4 linked regions of the Homo sapiens genome follow. The protein of the gene in region 4 interacts with the protein of the main gene of each other region in a biochemical or structural test. Each region holds a gene or a part of one and is shown on either strand. Other genes may lie near its edges.

Region 1 (4,568 bases), on a different chromosome or scaffold from region 4:
GAGCCACGTTGCCCGGCCTCCTTCCACCGTCTTCACACTGCTCTCCCTTACGGCAGGGGCTTAGGGAAGGAATGGGGGCAGCCGTATAGTGAAGCCACAAGCCTTTCTGCGCTGACTGATCTCTCTCTATCTTTTCTCTCTCTCCCCCTCTGACTGCCGCTCCAAAGTCGAGCTTCGATCCCCACCACCGTGCCCAGCCAAGTTACGAGCGTCCTTCTTTCCTGCCTCCAGGACCTGGGTTGATGCTCCGGCAAAAATCTATCGGTATGCCACCCAGAAGAAGAGATGTGGGGGCTGGGGGAGGCCAGGAACGTGACAGTTCAGGAAAAGCAAGCAGACTTGGAAATGTTCTGTGCTCCCAGAGAGACCATAGTTTCATCAAATTGGGTTAAGAGTTCAGGCTTTGGAAATGGGTGAACTTGGCCATGAATCCTGGCTCCCCTCCTTCCCAGCTGTGTGAACTGGGGCAGGTGGCTTGACTTCTCTGGGCCTCTGGCTCTACATCTGGAGAATGGGGATGCAGTGAGCTAAAGCCCCCGCTACAGCTTTCTGGTTGTTTCTCTTATACCCGATTCCATCCATTCATTCATTTTACAAGTGTTTACCAAGCGCTCCCCACATGCCAGGAATTGTTCTAGAATGGGGATACGTCAGCGAATAAAACAGACTAAAGGTTCCTGCCCTCATGGGCTTGCCTTATAGCAGGGGAAGACAGATAATGGATTATAAGGAAAATAAGCAAGAAAATTATCTAGTATGTTAGCAGTTGTACGTGCTATGGAAAACAAAAAAAAGAGTGGGCCGGGCGCAGCGGCTCACGCCTGTAATCCCAGCACTTTGGGAGGCCGAGGCAGGCAGATCACAAGGTCAGGAGATCGAGACCATCCTGGTTAACATGGTAAAATCCCATCTCTACTAAAAATACAAAAAATTAGCCGGGTGTGGTGGCGGGCACCTGTAGTCCCAGCTACTCAGGAGGCTGAGGCAGGAGAATGGCGTGAACCCGGAAGGCAGAGCTTGCAGTGAGCCGAGAACGTGCCACTGCACTCCAGCCTGGGCGACAGAGCAACCCTCTGTCTCAAAAAAAAAAAAAAAAAAAAAGAGTGAAAAAAAATAATGGAGTAAGGTAAGAGAGATAGGGAGTGCTGGGTAGGGGGCAGGGTGCAGGTTTGAGCTAAAACCTATAGATGGGCCAGGCACAGTGGCTCACACGTGTAATCCCAGCACTTTGGGAGGCCGAGGCAGGCGGATCACAAGGTCAGGAGTTCAAGACCAGCCTGACCAACATGATGAAACCCCATTTCTACTAAAAATACAAAAATTAGCCAAGCGTGGTGGCATGTGCCTGTAATCCCAGCTACTCAGGAGGCTGAGGCAGGAGAATAGCTTGAACCCGAGAGGCAGAGGTTGCAGTGAGCAAAGATCGCACCATTGCACTCCAGCCTGGGCGACAGAGCGAGACTCTGTCTCAAAAAAAAAGAAAAGAAAAAAAAACACCTAGAGATGAAGTGGGGAATCGTGAGGCTCCCTGGGGTTGAGGCATTCCAGGCAGAGCGAACTACCTCTGCAAAGGTCCTGAGGTCGGGCTGAGTCTGGTGCGTTTACAGAACAGGGAGGAGGCCTGTGTAGCAGGGGCCAAGTGAGCACTGGACATGAGGGCAGTGGGGGGACAGGGTCCCGATCCTGCAGGGTCTGGGGAGTCATGGTGAGGACTTGAACCTTTGCCCTGAGTGAGGTGAGTGAATGGCAGGGCTCTAAGCAGAGGAGGGACATGAGCTGACTTCGGTTTTAACAGAAACCCTCTGGCTGCTGTGAAGGGACTAGATTGAAGGGGATGAGCTGGGAAGCCGGGGGACCAAAGAGGAGGTGACAGCTATTGCTATCCAGATAGGAAATGATAGTGGCTGGCCCAGGGTGTTGACTCTGGAGGGGTGAGAAGGGATTGGATTCCGGATATGTTTTGAAACAACAGGATTTGCTGGTGGATTGGATGTGGGTGACTTGAGGAAGAAAGCTAAGAGTGGCTGCAAGGTTTTCAGTCTTAGCACCTGAAAGGACAGAGCTGCTGTTTGCTGCGGTGGTGGGGAGGGACCGTGGGCTGGGAGGAGTCTGTTGGTGAGGAGATCAGGAGCTTGGGTTGGAGCGTTTGGAGTCTGAGATGCCCGTGAGACAGCCAGCTGGGTGTGGGTATTTGAATATAGGGGCCCAGAGCTCAGGGCGGAGGATGGGGCCCCAGGCATAAACGTGGGCGTCGACAGCAGAAAGGCAGTGAATGAAGCTGGTCACTAGTTGAGAGGGAGTAGTCAGAGGTGAGAAGAGGTTCAAAGACCGAGCCTTGGCAGTGAAGTAAGCAAAGACTTAACTCCTGCACGCCTCCTGGAGTTGTTTTTCCCTGATTGGATTCAGCTTTCCCCAACTCCTGGCGTTCAAAGTCCACCAGTGTGAGTCTTACACTCCCACTGAGTGTGGGGTCCACCTGGCTCGCATCGTTTACCTGATTTTTTTTTTTATAGATCCAATCCCTTTTAAACTTTAGCCTCATCATAAGTGGTTCTCTCTGTAGAATCACAGCTTTGATGTGCTGGTTGCATTTCTTTCCCGCATATACGTGAAAAGAAACACGCATCTATGCATAAACACGAGGGGACTATCCCTTCCCAGCTCCAGCCACTTTTGCTGGCCCCAAACCGTTCACTGAGCCTTTGAACGGAATTAGAAAATGGCGCCCCCTCCTGGCGTGGGGAGGAAGTTCTGCTGAATTTCAGTTTCCTCACCTTCCTTGCGGTTTGCAGTTGTGCAGTGCACAACCTGTACCTCTGTATGAAGCAGATTTGGGTTTACCTCAAATAGGGAAGAGCTGGGCGAGTCCACGTGAAGTTCCTGGCATATACGGGGTGCCATTCTTGTCATTAGTATTGTTGCGGTTCTATGGGATAGTGGAGCAGGGAGACCCTCCCCGCCAGGGTCCCCCTCCTTGAGCCTCTGTATCTCCCCAGGTGCGGCAGAAGATGACAGACCTTACCTAGCACCCCCAGCCATGAAATTCAGCCGCAGCCTGTCTGTGCCTGGTTCGGAGGACATTCCCCCGCCACCCACCACGTCCCCACCGGAGCCTCCCTACAGCACACCTCCAGTCCCCTCCTCCTCAGGGCGCCTCACCCCCTCCCCTCGGGGAGGGCCCTTCAACCCTGGCTCTGGTGGCCCCCTCCCCGCCTCCTCCCCTGCATCCTTTGACGGGCCCTCCCCTCCCGACACTCGCGTGGGGAGCCGCGAGAAGAGCCTGTACCACAGTGGGCCCCTGCCCCCGGCCCACCACCACCCGCCCCACCACCACCACCACCACGCCCCGCCCCCTCAGCCCCACCACCACCACGCCCACCCCCCTCATCCTCCCGAGATGGAGACAGGCGGCTCTCCCGACGACCCTCCACCCCGCCTGGCTCTGGGGCCCCAGCCCAGCCTGCGAGGCTGGAGGGGCGGCGGGCCCAGCCCGACCCCGGGGGCCCCGTCCCCATCGCACCACGGCAGCGCGGGCGGGGGCGGCGGCTCCTCCCAGGGCCCGGCTCTACGCTATTTCCAGCTGCCCCCGCGGGCGGCCAGCGCAGCCATGTACGTGCCCGCCCGCTCGGGCCGCGGCCGCAAGGGCCCGCTGGTCAAGCAGACCAAGGTGGAAGGCGAGCCCCAGAAGGGCGGCGGCCTCCCGCCCGCGCCGTCGCCCACGTCCCCGGCCTCCCCGCAGCCGCCGCCCGCCGTGGCCGCGCCCTCGGAGAAGAACTCCATCCCCATCCCCACCATCATCATCAAGGCCCCGTCCACCAGTAGCAGCGGCCGCAGCAGCCAGGGCAGCAGCACCGAGGCGGAGCCCCCCACCCAGCCGGAGCCCACGGGAGGCGGCGGCGGCGGCGGCTCCTCGCCCAGCCCCGCCCCGGCCATGTCACCCGTGCCCCCGTCCCCCTCGCCCGTGCCCACCCCCGCCTCGCCCAGCGGCCCGGCCACGCTGGACTTCACGAGCCAGTTCGGGGCCGCCCTGGTGGGGGCGGCCCGGAGGGAGGGGGGCTGGCAGAATGAGGCGCGCCGGCGCTCCACGCTGTTCCTGTCCACCGACGCGGGGGACGAGGACGGCGGGGACGGCGGGCTGGGCACAGGGGCGGCCCCGGGCCCGCGGCTGCGCCACTCCAAATCCATCGACGAGGGCATGTTCTCCGCCGAGCCCTACCTCCGACTGGAGTCTGCGGGCAGCGGCGCGGGCTACGGCGGCTACGGGGCCGGTAGCCGAGCCTACGGGGGTGGCGGGGGCAGCAGCGCCTTCACCAGCTTCCTGCCCCCGCGACCCCTGGTGCACCCGCTGACCGGCAAGGCCCTGGATCCCGCCTCCCCGCTGGGGCTGGCCCTGGCCGCCCGCGAGCGAGCGCTGAAGGAGTCCTCGGAGGGCGGCGGGGCCCCCCAGCCGCCTCCCAGGCCCCCATCGCCCCGCTACGAGGCCCCGCCGCCCACCCCGCACCACCACTCGCCCCACGCCCACCACGAGCCAGTGCTGCGTCTCTGGGGGGCCTCCCCGCCGGACCCTG
Region 2 (4,568 bases), on a different chromosome or scaffold from region 4:
CTCACGCCTGTAATCGCAGCACTTTGGGAGGCCAAGGCGCGTGGATCACAAGGTCAGGAGATCGAGACCATCCTGGCTAACATGGTGAAACCCCATCTCTACTAAAAATACAAACAATTAGCCAGGCGCGGTGGCGGGTGCCTGTAGTCCCAGCTGCTGGGGAGGCTGAGGCAGGAGAATGGCATAAACCCGGGAGGCGGAGCTTGCAGTGAGCCAAGATCACGCCACTGCACCCCAGCCTGGGCAACAGAGGGGAGATTCCATCTCAAAAAAAAAAAAAAAAGAAAAAAGAAACGAAGGTCTTCGGGGTGGCTGGAGTGTGACATGTGAGGGGCCAGGCGATCAGAGAGGAGACTGGAAAGGCCTCACAGTCCATGGTGGAAAGTTTGGATTTCATCCCATGGGCACGGGAAGTCATTCAAAGGTTTTAAACAAGGCGGGAAGGGGTTCCAGCAATCGCTGTAGGTCACGTTACTCCTTTCGGATGTTCAGCGCACAGCTCTTTCTGTTACAGCACACTGACTACCGATGCTGTCTTTATCTAGTGTCGATTTCACATTTGTTTCAGCCTGACCAATGCGTTTTAGTTCAATCTACAACTAGAACTGAGAACAGCTGCTTACATCACCATTCTTTCTCCCTTGATTTTATAAACTTTTCTGAGAATATGTATTCTCAACCATTTACACAAGGTCTATGTTTCAGCTTTGCACCGTTTTAAAATCTCTGGAGAAGGGGCGGAGTGTGGAGGAGGTGGTAGCTGAGGAGATTCAGGGCAAGGAGTAGGTGGTGAGAGAGAAGGAGCACTGAACACATACAGCTGCAGTGGTGACAGGCTCTGGGAACCCTGATGGCTGTTTACAGGAACATTAGAGTTCCTCTTGTAAAGCCCACTTGTAAAGCAACACATCTTTGCGGAATATGTAAATTACCTTGCCTGGCTTCATTTGGTTTAATTGAGTCTCCTTAAATTGGAAGCATACCTTCCTCTTTTATTTACCAATCCTGTGAAAGCAGATTTACCTCGAATTTACATTTCTGCTGAGTGTCTAAATCAGTTATGGATTTTAAAAGACTATAAGTCCCCAGCTGTCCCACAGATTACTAGATGCTACTTTGTCTTGGCAAGGCTGGCTCCTTGTCACTCCGGTCTCACCTCCAATGCCACTCCCTCAGAGGGTCCTTGGCCACCCCCCTGATCTAAAGTAGACCCCAGTCACTCTCTTTCTTAACCCTTTTTCCATTTTTAAAAATTTTCTCCCTTGAATTTATGCTACTATTAATAAGGTTTTTACTTCCAGCCTTCCAGCAAGTGTGCAACATGATACAGAGCCTGGAGCTCAGGGTTGCACATCGTGAAGCCACCCTTTAGTAGGAGTCCCCTAGCGTGAATGACAGTTTTGCAGCTGAAACCCACACAAAGAGGAGGAGGGATGAGGCAGGAGGACCTGTACTCACCCAGACCCACTCTGGACTATAGTTTTCCATTTCTGCCACGGCACTTACTGCTATCTGCACTGATTTTATCTGTTCACTTTTGAATGTCCCTCCCACTAGGACATAAGCTCTATGGGGACAGGGATGGTGCCTGTCTCGTTTACCGTGTACTCCTGAAGTTAGCACAGATGGTATGCTGTATTTAGGTGAATGAATGCCTTGCAATGGTGTGAGCTGATAAGGTGATAAATCTATTCTAGAAGCTTTAAGGAGGATTCATTCTCTTTGTGGGAAGGTCAAACAGGTCAGCCCAGGGAAGTACAACTGGCTTTAAAGAGCCTGATGTCCCTTTCATTATTTTCTTCTAATGGACTGTGCTGAGAAGCAAATGCTCAACACAGTCAATGAAGGAAAATATGACTTTTTCCTCCCCAATTTTCTTTGTTCCTGACCCCTTTAACATAGCTAGGAAAGGCCACTGCAATACCATGGATATTGGTAAACACACATGAAACTAGTCCCTTGAATGATTTCAAAACATAAATTGGAATTTAATGAAAGAAATAAAAGAAGGTGGTTAAAGAAATTTTGAGAATGTGACAAGAGAAGAAATACAACACTTCTCCCCACAAAGACAGCAAGCTCAACACCGACTGGATTGACTGGCAGTGTAGGCTGGTTTTTTATAACATCACATAGAGTTCTCTAGTTACAGCAGAAAAACTATGTTTGGCTTGGCAAAAGAAGAAAAAGATATTTTTTCTTCCCCCAAAGAACAGAGGACTCTCCAGGAACAACGGCTTCTGGTCTCTTTTCAGCTGATAAGGATGATGGCATGTGGAGCTGGGTGCCTGGAGTTGGGCGTCTATGTCGATTTGCCCAGAGCAGCCTGAGACTCCCAAATTCCAGTGGAAAGATCACTGTTTTCGTTTGGCACAGAAAGTCAGCAGGTTGAACTAAAGTCTGTCATTTTTGGTTTTCTGTTGTTTTATTTTCAGTTTAGTGCATTACAATCCAAGGAAAAGAGTTAAAAGCCAGATGAAAATGGGAGGAGGAAAAGCTACAACAATCAATTATCTCCAGGGGAAAAAATATCTATCTGGAAGTAAGAAAACAGATGTATACCAAAGAGAAAAGCATGTGCAGAGAAACAGCACTGCAGGAAGAAGGATAGGGTAGCAAAGTTGACAGCACAAAGCCCATCTTCTGGCCACCCTTTCCCCTGGGGAAAAAGGATGTGGAGTAGGCCATTCCCCTTACCTCCTCTGCAGTGACCATGGCAATCACATTCACTCCCTGCTCCCACACCATCTGCCAGAAGTCGTGGCACGTGTGTGGCAGGGGCCCCTGGGTGGCTATGTAGTGCCATTCTGCCCCGCCAACCACCACCTAAAAACCAAGAAAAGTATCGGTAAATAAACCCCAAGTCCGGACAACATTACCTGCTGATCACCTGTCCATCTGTATCCACCTTAAAACCTTGGATATATTTTTGGGGCCGAATGAATTAGTTCAATGAACAAAAACCCTGAGACTACAGAGGCTAGTGTAGTGACACATTCTCACATGAAAATACTTTTTGCCACTCAAGCCTATTAAATATTTATCTAATCCTGGTTTTTGAGACTGAGTCTTGCTCTGCTGCTTAGGCGGGAGTACAGTGGCACGATCTTGGCTCACTGCAACCTCCGCCTCCTGGGTTCAAGCAATTCTCCCGTCTCAGAATCCCAAGGAGCTGGGATTACAGGCACTCGCCATCATGCCCGGCTAATTTTTGTATTTTTGTAGAGATGGCGTTTCACCACATTGGCCAGGCTGGTCTTGAACTCCTGACTTCAGGTGATACGCCCATCTCAGCCTCCCAAAGTGCTGGGATTACAGGCCTGAGCCACCAGGCTTGGCCTTTACCTGATCTTTGTTTGCAACTCACAGTATATGCAAACTAGTGCCTATTAAAAACCATACACATACACACATGTATAGATGCATATATATGAACATGTATAACTTAGGATTTACTTGTTACAGAAATAATAGTTACTGCTTACTATGTGCAATGTACTCTAACACTTTCCATTCTTTTCTCTTTTCTAGTCGATTTCATTGAAACACACACACACACACACACACACACACACACACACACACACACACACACCTGGTCATGACCACTAAACTGATTTCACATTCTACCACTGTGTTGTAATCCAGTTTGAAAAGCAGTGCTTCATGGCATCCAATTAAACAATAAAAAAAAAAAAAAAGATCATGAAACAACATCCCTTTTGGAGCACTATCTTTCTCCTGTGGATCTGAGATGAAGTGTATCATAAACCTCTGCTGTCACTGCTGCTCTGTGGTGCCATGCACGGCAGAGATGCTACGAATGCTCTTGTCAACAGCATATATTTTATCAATAGCTTCACCTTGGTAGTACCACAGCATCCAACTGAACTACAGTCATGACATGACTTTGGATAATAAAATTATTACCCCTGCAGCTCAGGGTGATCAGGGGAAGATAATTCTACAGCTATAAATACTAGCTGCTGAGAACCATAAATAAGAAGTTGTACCCAAAGTGTTAAAGGTCATGCTGTCAAGGTGAAATGGTGGCCTTTGGAGGAATTCTTTCTGTTCTCCCTTCCAGGTCTGTGCCTTGATATTGCAAAGTCAGGTCCCTTCTACATCTATACAATGCAGATCTCTGGAGAGTTCAAAAAGTAATGAAGTAATCATTGTTTGAAACTTTTTCCCCTCATTTATTTGATAAAACTGTATGCTAACTTGGTTCAAACAAAAACAATGTAAGTTATTGTCTCATTACACAAGGCATGTTTAGGTCAAAGCTGGCAAGAAAAATCCATTTTCCAAATACTGGTGGGAGATAACATTCATATATTTGCTGGCTAGGAGTTTGGTTTATCCGTGGAATTGTGATTTTAAACATTAGCCTCTCTGGCACCCAACGTATAGGAAACATAAATACTTCCAGAGAATGCTGCTGCTGCCTGGGGCCTTTCAGTATATTCCAAGTATTGACAGAAGGGTATTAAAAACTGCATTAAAAACACAACAAGCAGTGCTGCTGAGGTAGATTTCACACATGTGATTCCACCTCTGGAGCAAAT
Region 3 (5,215 bases), on a different chromosome or scaffold from region 4:
GGTTGTGACCTCATGTCCCTTGTGGCCCCTCCCTCTGCCATGCTGTTCTCCATCCCATCTTTTTTTTTTTATTTGTTTTTAAATTATTTATTTATTGTTTTTGAGATGGTGTCTAGCTCTGTTGCCCAGGCTGGAGTGCAGTGACGCAATCTCAGCTCACTGCAACCTCCGCCTCCTGGGTTCAAGCGATTCTCCTGCCTCAACCTCCCCAGTAGCTGGGATTACAGATGCCCACCACCACGCCTGGCTAATTTTTTTTGTATTTTCAGTAGAGACGGGGTTTCGCCACATTGGCCAGGCTGGTCTCGAACTCCTGACCTCAGGTGATCCACCCACCTCGGCCTCCCAGAGTGTTGGGATTACAGGCGTGAGCCACTGCTCCGGCCCCTCAGCCCATCTTCAGTCACTGGGAGTAGGAATCAGCTGAGTCCTGGGCCAGGGAAGGATGGTGTATGCCCAAGGCTGATCAGGCGTCTGCCCCACCCAGGGCGGGTAAGGTCTGCAAGCCCCCTTACCCAGGGGACCTGGGGCTGCTGGAGTCTCCCATCCAGCCACCTCCCTCGACTCTAGTGTGGCCAGGAAGCTACAGCCTGCCAGGTTTTGGGTGGACCTGGTTGGTGTGGGATGACCCCCTAAGCCCAAACAGGTGTGGTATGTGGGGTGCGTGGTGGTGGGTCACACTGCCCACAGCCATCTTCACAGACTCCAAGGGTGGCAGCACCAGGCTGTGTCCAGGGAGGCCAGCCACAGGCCAGACAGGCAGCCTCTGGACATGCAGACAGAGAGATGGAAGCGGCCGGCCGGGCGGGAGCCTGAAGCAGCCTTACCCAGGAATTGCAGGGGTTGGGGTGGCGAGCAGTCGCGGCGCCTCAGCCTAAGTGGCTTTTAGGGGCAGCTGCCGGGATATGGGCACCCAGGGGGCCATGGCCCAGGAGGCTGCCCAGAGGCGAGCCCTGTGCTTGGGTGGGGGCAGGGGAGCCCAGCCCAGGGCCCCGGAGAGACGAGAGGGAGAGGAGGACTGCGCCAAGCCTGCTTCTACGGCTCACATGGGGAATTGCCTGGGCTGGCTGTGCCTGACCCCTGGGAACCAGGTATGTGCAAGGGGGCCTGGCTGGGCTGGGGAGGAGGGCAGACTGGGGCTGTGCCTGGACTCAGCTACCTTCCTATATTGGAGACAGAGGAAGAGCTGGGTGGTGAAGATAGCATGGACTCCGAATCTCACATCCCTGGGCCCAAATGGAGCTGAGGAGGCTTCGTGGGTCTTTTCCCTCTCCAGGCCTGTTTGCAGGTCTGTGAAGTGGCCGGTCCCCTAGGGTTGTTCCAGGTAAAATGCACTTAGGCCTAAATGATTTCACTGTGGTGGTGACTGTCCTGTTGGGGAAGGAGGGACACTCGTGCTTCAGGTAGAGGCTGAGGGACGTGGACGGCTGTGGGCAGGGGAGGGGAGGCCTGCTGCCTGCCTGTGGACACTGTGGAGCAGCGCCTGTGCACACCCAGAGCTTAGAGCCCAAATAATTCAGTGGAGTGTAGCCCATGTCAGGAGGTGGGTAGCAGGGACCCTCGAGACTCATATCCTTTTGTCACCCTGCAAAGTCACAGTCCAGGCCTGGGGTGGGCTGGGACACAAGTGAGGGGGCCGGCCCGGCCAAGGGAAAGAATGGCAGCAGGGCGTGGGAACCGACGCGGTGCAGATAGGCCGAACACGGTGGGTAGGCCAGGGAGTCTCCCAGCCACTGGCCCCCAGGATGCAGGGAGGGGCTGCTGCGTGTCACTTTTAAAGCCCTTTTTGCCTCCTGGGCCCTCCTGAGACTCTGCCCTGGGCCAGGGAGTCTCCCAGCCACTGGCTGGGAGGGATCCAGGTGAGACACAGCCGAGAGGAGACAGGCAAGGGGGTCCGGAAGGGCTTCCCGGGGAGGGTGGGGAGGGCTGTGGCCCTTGTTCTTACCCTTTGGCCCCTTTGTCGGGGTCCCTTGGCCTGGAGACCCTTTGTCCAACCCGTCGCCCACCTCAAGACCTGCCTCGATGCTGCGCATACAGTAGGTATCCAATAAATGTTCCTGGGATAGAAGGCAAAGGCGCTGGCACCAAGGCGGCTGCCCAGAGTAGGGGCGAGACAGAGAGGTCCCGGTGGTTAAGGGGTCCCCTAGCCCTGCCGCCTCCCCCTGCCCCGCCTCGGGCTGGCCGGGCGCGGAGGTAGGGGCCTGGCCGGGACGGCTGGGACTGGAGGCGGGGGCGGCCGGGCGGCGGGGGCGGGGAAGGGGCGGGCGCGGAGGCGGTGCCGCAGCCCGAGCCGGAGCCCGAGCCGGATCCCGAGGCGACGGGAGCCGAACAGGAGCCGCCGCTGAAGCCACCGCCGGGTGCCCAGCGCCGCCGCCGCCCCCGAGCTCCCCCGCGCCCCTGCCCGCGGGCGGCCGGTGGGCAGCGGGCGCCATGGCCGCGCCGGAGCCGCTGCGGCCGCGCCTGTGCCGCTTGGTGCGCGGAGAGCAGGGCTACGGCTTCCACCTGCACGGCGAGAAGGGCCGCCGCGGGCAGTTCATCCGGCGCGTGGAACCCGGTTCCCCCGCCGAGGCCGCCGCGCTGCGCGCTGGGGACCGCCTGGTCGAGGTCAACGGCGTCAACGTGGAGGGCGAGACGCACCACCAGGTGGGGGCCAGCGCTCGCCCCCGGCCCGCCGCCCCCTCCCCGAGCGCGTCCCCCTGGGGCGAGCAGGGGTCGCACGGGGGCCCGAGGGGGCTCCCGCGGGGAGGACGCGGACGTTGTCGGGAGGCAGCGGCCCGGCGCCTTCGGAGTCCCGGCGCAGGAAGCTCAGTCCTGCACGGGGGTGGGGGGGGGCATCCTGGCAGGGAGGGGCCCGCACTGCGGCTCCTGGCCGCTGGCCTCGCCCTTTGGTCGCGTTTTGGCCTCAGTGTGCCGTGAAGGAGGGTGTTGGGCCGCCTGGAGCCCCTCCGGAAAGGTGAAGACCTGGGTGCTTTTGCCTGGGTGTGTGTGTACACGTGTGCGTGTGAACACAGCTGGGCGTGTGTATGCAGGTCCCTTTGGGGTCAGCCATGTGTGCATGCGCCTGCCTGTGCGTACCCAGGAGGGGTCGCAGTAAAGGCATCAGTGTGTCTGCACCTGTGTGTGCTGTAGTGTGTGTGTGAGTATACAGGTCTGCACGTGTGCCTGTGTGTGTGCAGGTCTGGACTCCTGGGCGTATGGGAGCTGGGCTCTGTGTGTGTGCACGCCTGGCTAGTGTACTCATCACTGTCTGCAGGCCGGTGAGTCTTTGTGTCTGTACTCTAGTGTGTCCCAGCTGGTGTGTCTGGGACCGGGCTGAGTTGGTCATTGCTGGCAACCACATTCCTTAGCTACAAAGGCACTACTCCTCCTCAGAGGCTGCCTAGCCTGGCTGGGGTTACTGGCCGAAGCCTCCTGCCTCCTGGCTAAGGAGAACAGAGCCTTTTCTCTGTGGGTTCTGACCCCTGAGGTGTGTCTGTCTCCCACAGGCCAGGGACTCCCTCCAGACCCTGGTTGGGGTCCAGCGTCCACACACCCCTTTTCCTCCAGGTCCCCTGTCCCTCACAGCACCGATGAATCCATAACCTGTCTACATGGCTGGTCCTGGAACCTAGAGATTAGCAGGTTGGTTCAGCTGGACCTGGAGCTGGTCTCCTGTTTACCTGGTGCCTTGTCTGTCACTCTGTCGGCCGGCCCCATGCCTTCCACCCAGAGTGTCTGCTGTGTAAGGTTGTTTGCTGAAGAATGTGGGGATCAGGCCAGGGGCCTGGACCTGAGGGATTGAGGGTAGGGCTGCCAGGGCTGGGGCCAGGCTGCTGTTGGATAGTCACTGCCACCCTCGCCCTGGGAACACCTGCTTTTCCAAGGCCCTGTGGGGCTGGTCTCTGAGGACTGGACACACAGACCATGGTGGACTCTCCCCACTGCCCCAGGAGGGCAAGAGGGGCAGTTACTGCCCCATTTGACAGTTGAGGAAACTGATGCCAGAGATTGAGGGTAACTTGTCTGGGACACATAGTCAAGAAGCAGCTGGGCACTGGGTTCCTCTTGTCTCACTCTGGGTCATGGGGAGAGAGGAGGGCTGGGGGAAGATGGGCCTGGCTCAGTCCCTCCTATCTGTTCACCACCCCTGCTGAGCCCGGCAGCTGGTGGGGAGCCTTGTCCACCCTCCCCCAGGCCGCAGGTGGGAGTAGGGCTGCCCCTCTTCCTGCCCACTTCCCAGTGGGCACTGCTTTCTCTCCGCGGGTGTGCGCTGGCCCCCCGCGTGGTCCAGACACTTCACAGGCACCTGCACGCACACACCGACGGCCACCAAGCCACAGCTGTCCACAGGTGCACCTGCCTCTCCCCCTCGCCGGCTGCACCTGAATCCTGCTTCCCTGGCTGTGTGTGGGTGCCCGAGCCAGGAGCCCAGCCCTTCCCCTCTCTGCAGATCCAGAGGGAATGGGCCCATGGCCATGGCCTGGAGGTAGATATAAGGCCTAGGGTCAGGAGTTTAGACTCCCACACTGCACGGCAGAGAATGACGGGAATGGGCACAGACACACTCAAACTGGGGCCCAGGGAGACACACCTCTCCTTCAAACCTGGACGGAGACACAGACTTTGAAACAGATGGATGCATGCGCGCACAGGGACAGGCAGACTGAAAACCTGAAGGTCCACTGTGCACCATTTTTGTCACTTCCAGACAGGACTTACCCAGCGGCCCTATCCTGCAGCCCCTTCCCAGCCCCGCCTGGAGAAGACCCTGGGCTAAGGGCAAGGCTCTGGGAGCACCCTGAAGCCCTCACAGCCTGGGCCTCAGTGTCCGGAGCCTGAGTGCAGAGGGAGGGAGCCGCTGGAGTCCGGGGGTGGGGGGCGGGGCCGGCAGGCCTCTTGGTGCAGCCACCCGCCCATGCAGACCAGCCGCCTGTCCGCACGCCTGGGCCAGCCCAGAGTGGTGCCACTGCCCATGTGCTGCCCGGAATGTGGGCCACTGACCCGCTCCTATCGCCCATTCGCCCCAGGTGGTGCAAAGGATCAAGGCTGTGGAGGGGCAGACTCGGCTGCTGGTGGTGGACCAGGAGACAGATGAGGAGCTCCGCCGGCGGCAGCTGACCTGTACCGAGGAGATGGCCCAGCGAGGGCTCCCACCCGCCCACGACCCCTGGGAGCCGAAGCCAGACTGGGCACACACCGGCAGCCACAGCTCCGAAGCTGGCAAGAAGGTATGGCG
Region 4 (5,228 bases):
GTGAGAAGTAGTGGGAGAAAATTTTGAGGATGATTATCTTTTTTTTTTGAGATGGAGGTTCGTTCTTATTGCCCAGGTTGGAGTGCAATGGCGCAATCTCAGCTACCAGAACCTCTGCCTCCCGGGTTCAAGCGATTCTCCTGCCCCAGCCTCCCAAGTCCTCCCGAGTAGCTTGAATTACAGGCACCTGCCATCACACCCAGCTAATTTTTTGTATTTTTAGTAGAGACGGGGTTTCTCCATGTTGGTCAGGCTGGTCTCGAACTCCCAACCTCAGGTGATCTGCCCACCTCACCCTCCCAAAGTGCTGGGATTACAGGTGTGAGCCACTGCACCCGGCTGAGGATGATTATCTTGATTGTAGTGGCAGCTTCACAGGTGTACACACATGTCAAAACTCATCAATTTATGCACTTTATAATTTATTGTATATCCGTTATATATCAAAAAGCTTTTCAAAATTTACTTGGAATATCTAATCACCTGTAACTAAAAGTTTCAAAACTCAGCTGAGTATTTATACCTTTAGTATGCTATCCATAATCTGCATATATGTTATTTGTATCATTGGCCTTGTTACATTAGAGTCATCCCTTGGGGGATTGGTTCCAGCAAGTCCCTTATATAAAATGGCATGCTATTTGCATATAACCTACACACATCCTCCTGTATACCTTAAATCATTTCTAGATTACTTATAATACAATGGAAATGCTATGTAAAGAGCTGTTACACTGTTATAACTGTGTTGTCATTCTGTATTGGGAATAATGGCAAGAAAAATAGTCTATATATGTTAAGTACAGACACAGCCTTCCATTTTTCTTCTCGAATATTTCGATCCATACTTGGTTGCCTTACGGATATGAAAGGCTAACTATATTTGTTTTCATGCCAAATTCTTCCCTATTTGATTAATAATACACTCCTGCCACCAGTAAGTAAAGTGTCTTTTTTTCATTGATTCTTTCAAGTCTAATTTAGGTGAATCCTTAGGTTAGTTACTGTTAGTCATGGCTCAAATATAGGTTTAATGAGAAGAGTGTTTCCATAGCCCTTCAAGGGGTCGGATATCTCCTTAGGTAACTTGGAATGATTTCCCTGCTTACTGACATCTCTAAGTTATCTTTCTTTATAAATCTGCATAGTTGGTTCTGCAGTGTCTGCTGACATAGAAATTCAGTTGTTAAATGAAGTAAAAAGTAAAAATTTCACGGCTTTTAACAAACATAGTGGCCAAATTCAAAGCAGCAAGAACATGGAGAGTCTAGTCTGCACATGATACTAGTTTTAACCTAATAAAAAGTAGGAATTTTATTTAAAAGGCTAAAATAAAAAGTTGTAAAAATAATATGAAAATTATAGCCAATTCAGTTATTTTAGTTATGACTTACAGTTTAGTGTTATATATTTGTTTTGTGCTACAAACAGGAGCATACCTTCTTTGATAAAAAGCAAATGAGAGTCTTTAGAATATTCTCCAATACTCCCATGTTTGTCACAGAACCCTAGGCATCAGCCTTTTCTGGAGTCTATAATTTTATTCATTTTAAAGTTTATTGTTAAATACATCCTCATATTTTAAGAGCAAAATAAATTCTTCAAGGAATTTTAAGTTGTTTTATGCTCCAGAGTAATTCATTCACTCTGGCCTTAGGGGGTACAGCAAAAATAATTACGATATTTTGTGATAAGTGCTGTGTTCAGGATGTTAAAGACATGACATGTCTGTGTCTAATCCAATCTCAAGATCGAGATGGGATCACCACGGAGAGTTTCTTCAAAAAGGTAGTGCCTTCACCAGGTCTTAAATAATACGGAAGAAAGGCATGGTATTGAGAGGATGTGTCCTCCCACAGACAGACTACAATGAGTGTAGTATCACTGTTTTAAAGTCACTTCTCACTTTGTAAGATGAGCATGGGAGGAGTCAAAAGTAGAAGATAGAAAAGAAATAAGAGGGATCCCCATAAGACTGCAAGAAAAGTTAAAAAGATGATGAGTATAAATGAAGTTACTTTTGAGGCAAGCAGGAAGAGGTGGCAAGAGGGGCCAGAAAAATCAAAGATTATACCTGATGACCTGGTTTTTTTTGTTTGTTTTGTTTTTTGTTTTTTGTTTTGAGACAGAGTCTCGCTCTGTCACCTAGGCTGGAGTGCAGTGGCGCAATCTCAGCTCACTGCAACCTCAGCTTCCTGAGTAGCTGGGACTACAGGCATACGCCACCACGCCTGGCTAATTTTTTTATATTTTCAGTAGAGACGGGGTTTCACCATGTTGGTCAGGCTGGTCTCCAACTCCTGACCTCAAATGATCCGCCCACCTCAGCCTCCCAAAGTGCTGGGATTACAGGCGTGAGCCACCACACCCAGCCAATGGCCTCAGTGTTCTAATGTAGATGGAAAAGAAATAGACATGGACTTCACTGGCTGGGCATGGTGGCTCACGCCTGTAATCCTAACACTTTGGGAGGCCAATCGCTTGAGCTCAGGTGTTAAGACCAGCCTGGGCGACATATAGTGAGACCTTGTCTCTACAAAAAAATTTGGAGGAAGAGAAAAGAAAAGAAATGGACTTCCCTGAATAGGGGCTTGAGATAGTATGCCATATTTGGAGTAGTGACCATGAGGATGTGAAAAACAACTGACCAAGAACAAAACAAAACAAAAAAACCAATAAGTGGTACTAGGGTCCATCCAAAACCAAAGACCTTTAATTTGTAATGATAACATTCTGGATAGTTATGTGATTTCTTTTTTTTCTTTTCCCTTAGCATTTCTCAGCAATCTCAGAATGAAAATGGAACAAATACACTTTGGCATTGCTTTGGGGTTGGGATTTGCTGGGCTGAGATAAAATTATATGTACATCAGGAATCTAAAAGGTGCTTATGCTGTTTTGAATGATCAGTCATGAATTTAAGCTTGTAGGGAAGGAGAAAAAAAAATAAGATACCAAAAGACAGCCAATAGACTAGACTAGTAAGGAGAGATGGGTCTGGAGTCTCTGAGGTTGGAGGGCTGGTAGAGTGGACATGAGTCTATGCAGGAACTGGTTAGAAAAAAATGTGAGAAAGTAAAATAAGTGCATGTAAGATTTTGGGGAGAGAAGTTTCTAAGCCAGTTCTTGGGTATGACTGAGGGAATTAATGATTGAAATACAGTGATGAAGTGGTCAGTATCATTTCGGTGTAAAGGCGATCCCGGCATTTCAACAATGGGTTATTATATGGGTTTTATGCATGGAGGTCATAATTCCAATGTGATGAATGCAGTTGGAATGAAGAGAAACACTGATCATCGTCTCAAAACATGACTTAAGATTTTAGAGTTGGTTTGGTTTCAAATAACAGGATCTTAGTGGCTGTGCAATGGGTGTTTGAGTGGAGTGGAGATGAAGGTCACTGGAATCCAGAAGGTTCAGGAAGCTGTCAGGTTAAGTGAATTGTCCATTTAATACTGAAGCATGTTAAGAGGCATGGAGAATACTTGGAGTGGCAAGAGGCTTTGACCAGACTCCAGAATTTTCCCGTATATAAGATGGAGTAACGAAGAGATCAGTAAATTTGAGTACAAGAAGCAGTTTACCTTGCAGGGAAGACAGGCAAACAATTTTGGCATTTGGCCAAGTCCCTAGGTTCCCTCTCAGGACATTGGTGTTTGTTTTTTTTTAAAGTACAGGATTGAAAAGAAAAGGAATTTCATTGATACAGTTAAGAAAATATTAAATAGAAACTTGTGATATAACGTGCTTCTTTTTAATGTATAAATAACAAGATCTAAGGCTGGGTGCAGTGGCCTATGCTTGTAATGCCAGCACTTTGGGCGGCCAAGGAGGGTAGATCATCTGAGCCTGGGAGATTGAGACCAGCTGGGCAACATGGCAAAACCCTGTCTCTACAAAAATACAAAAAATTAGCTGGGTATGGTGGTGTGCCTCTGTGGCTGCAGCTACTCATGAGGCTGAGGCAGGAGGATCACTTGAGCCTAGAAGGTCAAGGCTGCAGTGAGCTATAATTGCATCACTGCATTCCAGATTGGGTGACAGAGTGAGACCCTGTCTCAAAAAGATTAAAAAAAAAAAAAATCTAGAAGCACATCTTATAACGTAACTACTGTAGCATTGAAATAGCAATGATCATAAATGGTATTTTAAAATATTTGCAACAACTACAATGTGATATGAAAACATTTATATGTTCTATTGGTGAAAAGTTAGGTACAGTGAATACTAATGGTGCATACTACATTGGAGAAAATGTTGACAAATTTAGCGAAAGTTAATGTGTAATTTTTTTTTTTTTACCCCATTGAAGTTCAGAGACTCTCTGAATTCTGTCATGGTCCGCTGGTTAAGAAACTCTGGTTTAAAGGATGGTATATCCAGAAGGCATAAACCTAAAGAAAAATAAGTGGTATTTGCATGCAGGAGAATTGTAGTTTAGAAGTGGCAGCGTAGAGCTAGGAGAAGCTTTCCATACTTCAGGACCCCATGGCGATTGTGGAGGTGAGGGCTGGAGATGGTGGGGCCGTGCCTCAGTGAGCAGACTTGGCTCAGAAAGCTGTGTGGAAGGATGACGGAGTCAGGCCAGTATCCTTTGTGATAAGAAACTGTATGTATTTCAAATCAAACCCAAAAAGTAGAGGGAAAGAAAGCTGATGGTCTAGTAGAGATGATGTTTACGATAGGTGGAGAGGCACAGTGAAAATTCTTAGGAGGGTAAGAAACAGTGAACAGATAAAGGAGAGAAAAAGGACAGAGTAGTAATGAGTGTGCTACGGATGGGTCACAGTGAGATGAACTGTTTTTGAGGTCCTGGGCAAATACAGGCTGAAACCTGGGAGGTTTGGAAGCCCTTGAAGGCAGGCCTTCTGCAACCATCAGAGTAGCAACCTACAGCCTTTGCTCAGGTTTACAGGGAGAATCCTGCTGAGAAATTGTTGGATGACCCTGAAGAAATTTTACCCCATTTTAAATATTATGTTTGTGGTGGAGAAGCCTTGGGTTTGTGTTTTAACTTCTGATGTCTTTTTTTCATTTTCCTCCTCTCTCCCTGCTAGAGGATGGAACATATTCTATCCAGCTCAGGATAGAAAAACCTAAAGTCAAAATGAGACATTTAATAGCAAAGTGTGAAATAGTGTTGGGGGTTGGGGAAGGATTGGTGTCTTATAGTAAAATCATCAGATGCTATTCTTCCTACTTCTTTTTTTTTGGCGGGGGAGGGG

The links. Proteins that work in one complex are often made in the same cells at the same time.
Region 1: the proteins of YAP1 (region 4) and SHANK1 interact in a test that uses a peptide from one of them, tested with the Homo sapiens proteins (2 studies listed by IntAct, with this or other methods).
Region 2: the proteins of YAP1 (region 4) and PTPN14 form a complex in vitro, tested with the Homo sapiens proteins (3 studies listed by BioGRID and IntAct, with this or other methods).
Region 3: the proteins of YAP1 (region 4) and NHERF2 form a complex in vitro, tested with the Homo sapiens proteins (2 studies listed by IntAct, with this or other methods).

Annotation. Positions count from the first base shown.
Region 1 is NC_000019.10:50,667,714-50,672,281, reverse strand, and holds part of SHANK1 (SH3 and multiple ankyrin repeat domains protein 1), read left to right. Parts: intron 1-167; coding exon 168-264; intron 265-2,996; coding exon 2,997-4,568. UniProt on the Homo sapiens protein: Seems to be an adapter protein in the postsynaptic density (PSD) of excitatory synapses that interconnects receptors of the postsynaptic membrane including NMDA-type and metabotropic glutamate receptors via complexes with GKAP/PSD-95 and Homer, respectively, and the actin-based cytoskeleton.
Region 2 is NC_000001.11:214,370,014-214,374,581, forward strand, and holds part of PTPN14 (tyrosine-protein phosphatase non-receptor type 14), read right to left. Parts: intron 2,827-4,568; coding exon 2,698-2,826; intron 1-2,697. UniProt on the Homo sapiens protein: Protein tyrosine phosphatase which may play a role in the regulation of lymphangiogenesis, cell-cell adhesion, cell-matrix adhesion, cell migration, cell growth and also regulates TGF-beta gene expression, thereby modulating epithelial-mesenchymal transition.
Region 3 is NC_000016.10:2,024,576-2,029,790, forward strand, and holds the start of NHERF2 (Na(+)/H(+) exchange regulatory cofactor NHE-RF2), read left to right. Parts: upstream 1-2,326; 5' UTR 2,327-2,430; coding exon 2,431-2,643; intron 2,644-3,600; exon of another isoform or gene 3,601-3,621; intron 3,622-5,006; coding exon 5,007-5,207; intron 5,208-5,215.
Region 4 is NC_000011.10:102,217,660-102,222,887, forward strand, and holds part of YAP1 (transcriptional coactivator YAP1), read left to right. Parts: intron 1-5,228. UniProt on the Homo sapiens protein: Transcriptional regulator with dual roles as a coactivator and corepressor. Critical downstream regulatory target in the Hippo signaling pathway, crucial for organ size control and tumor suppression by restricting proliferation and promoting apoptosis.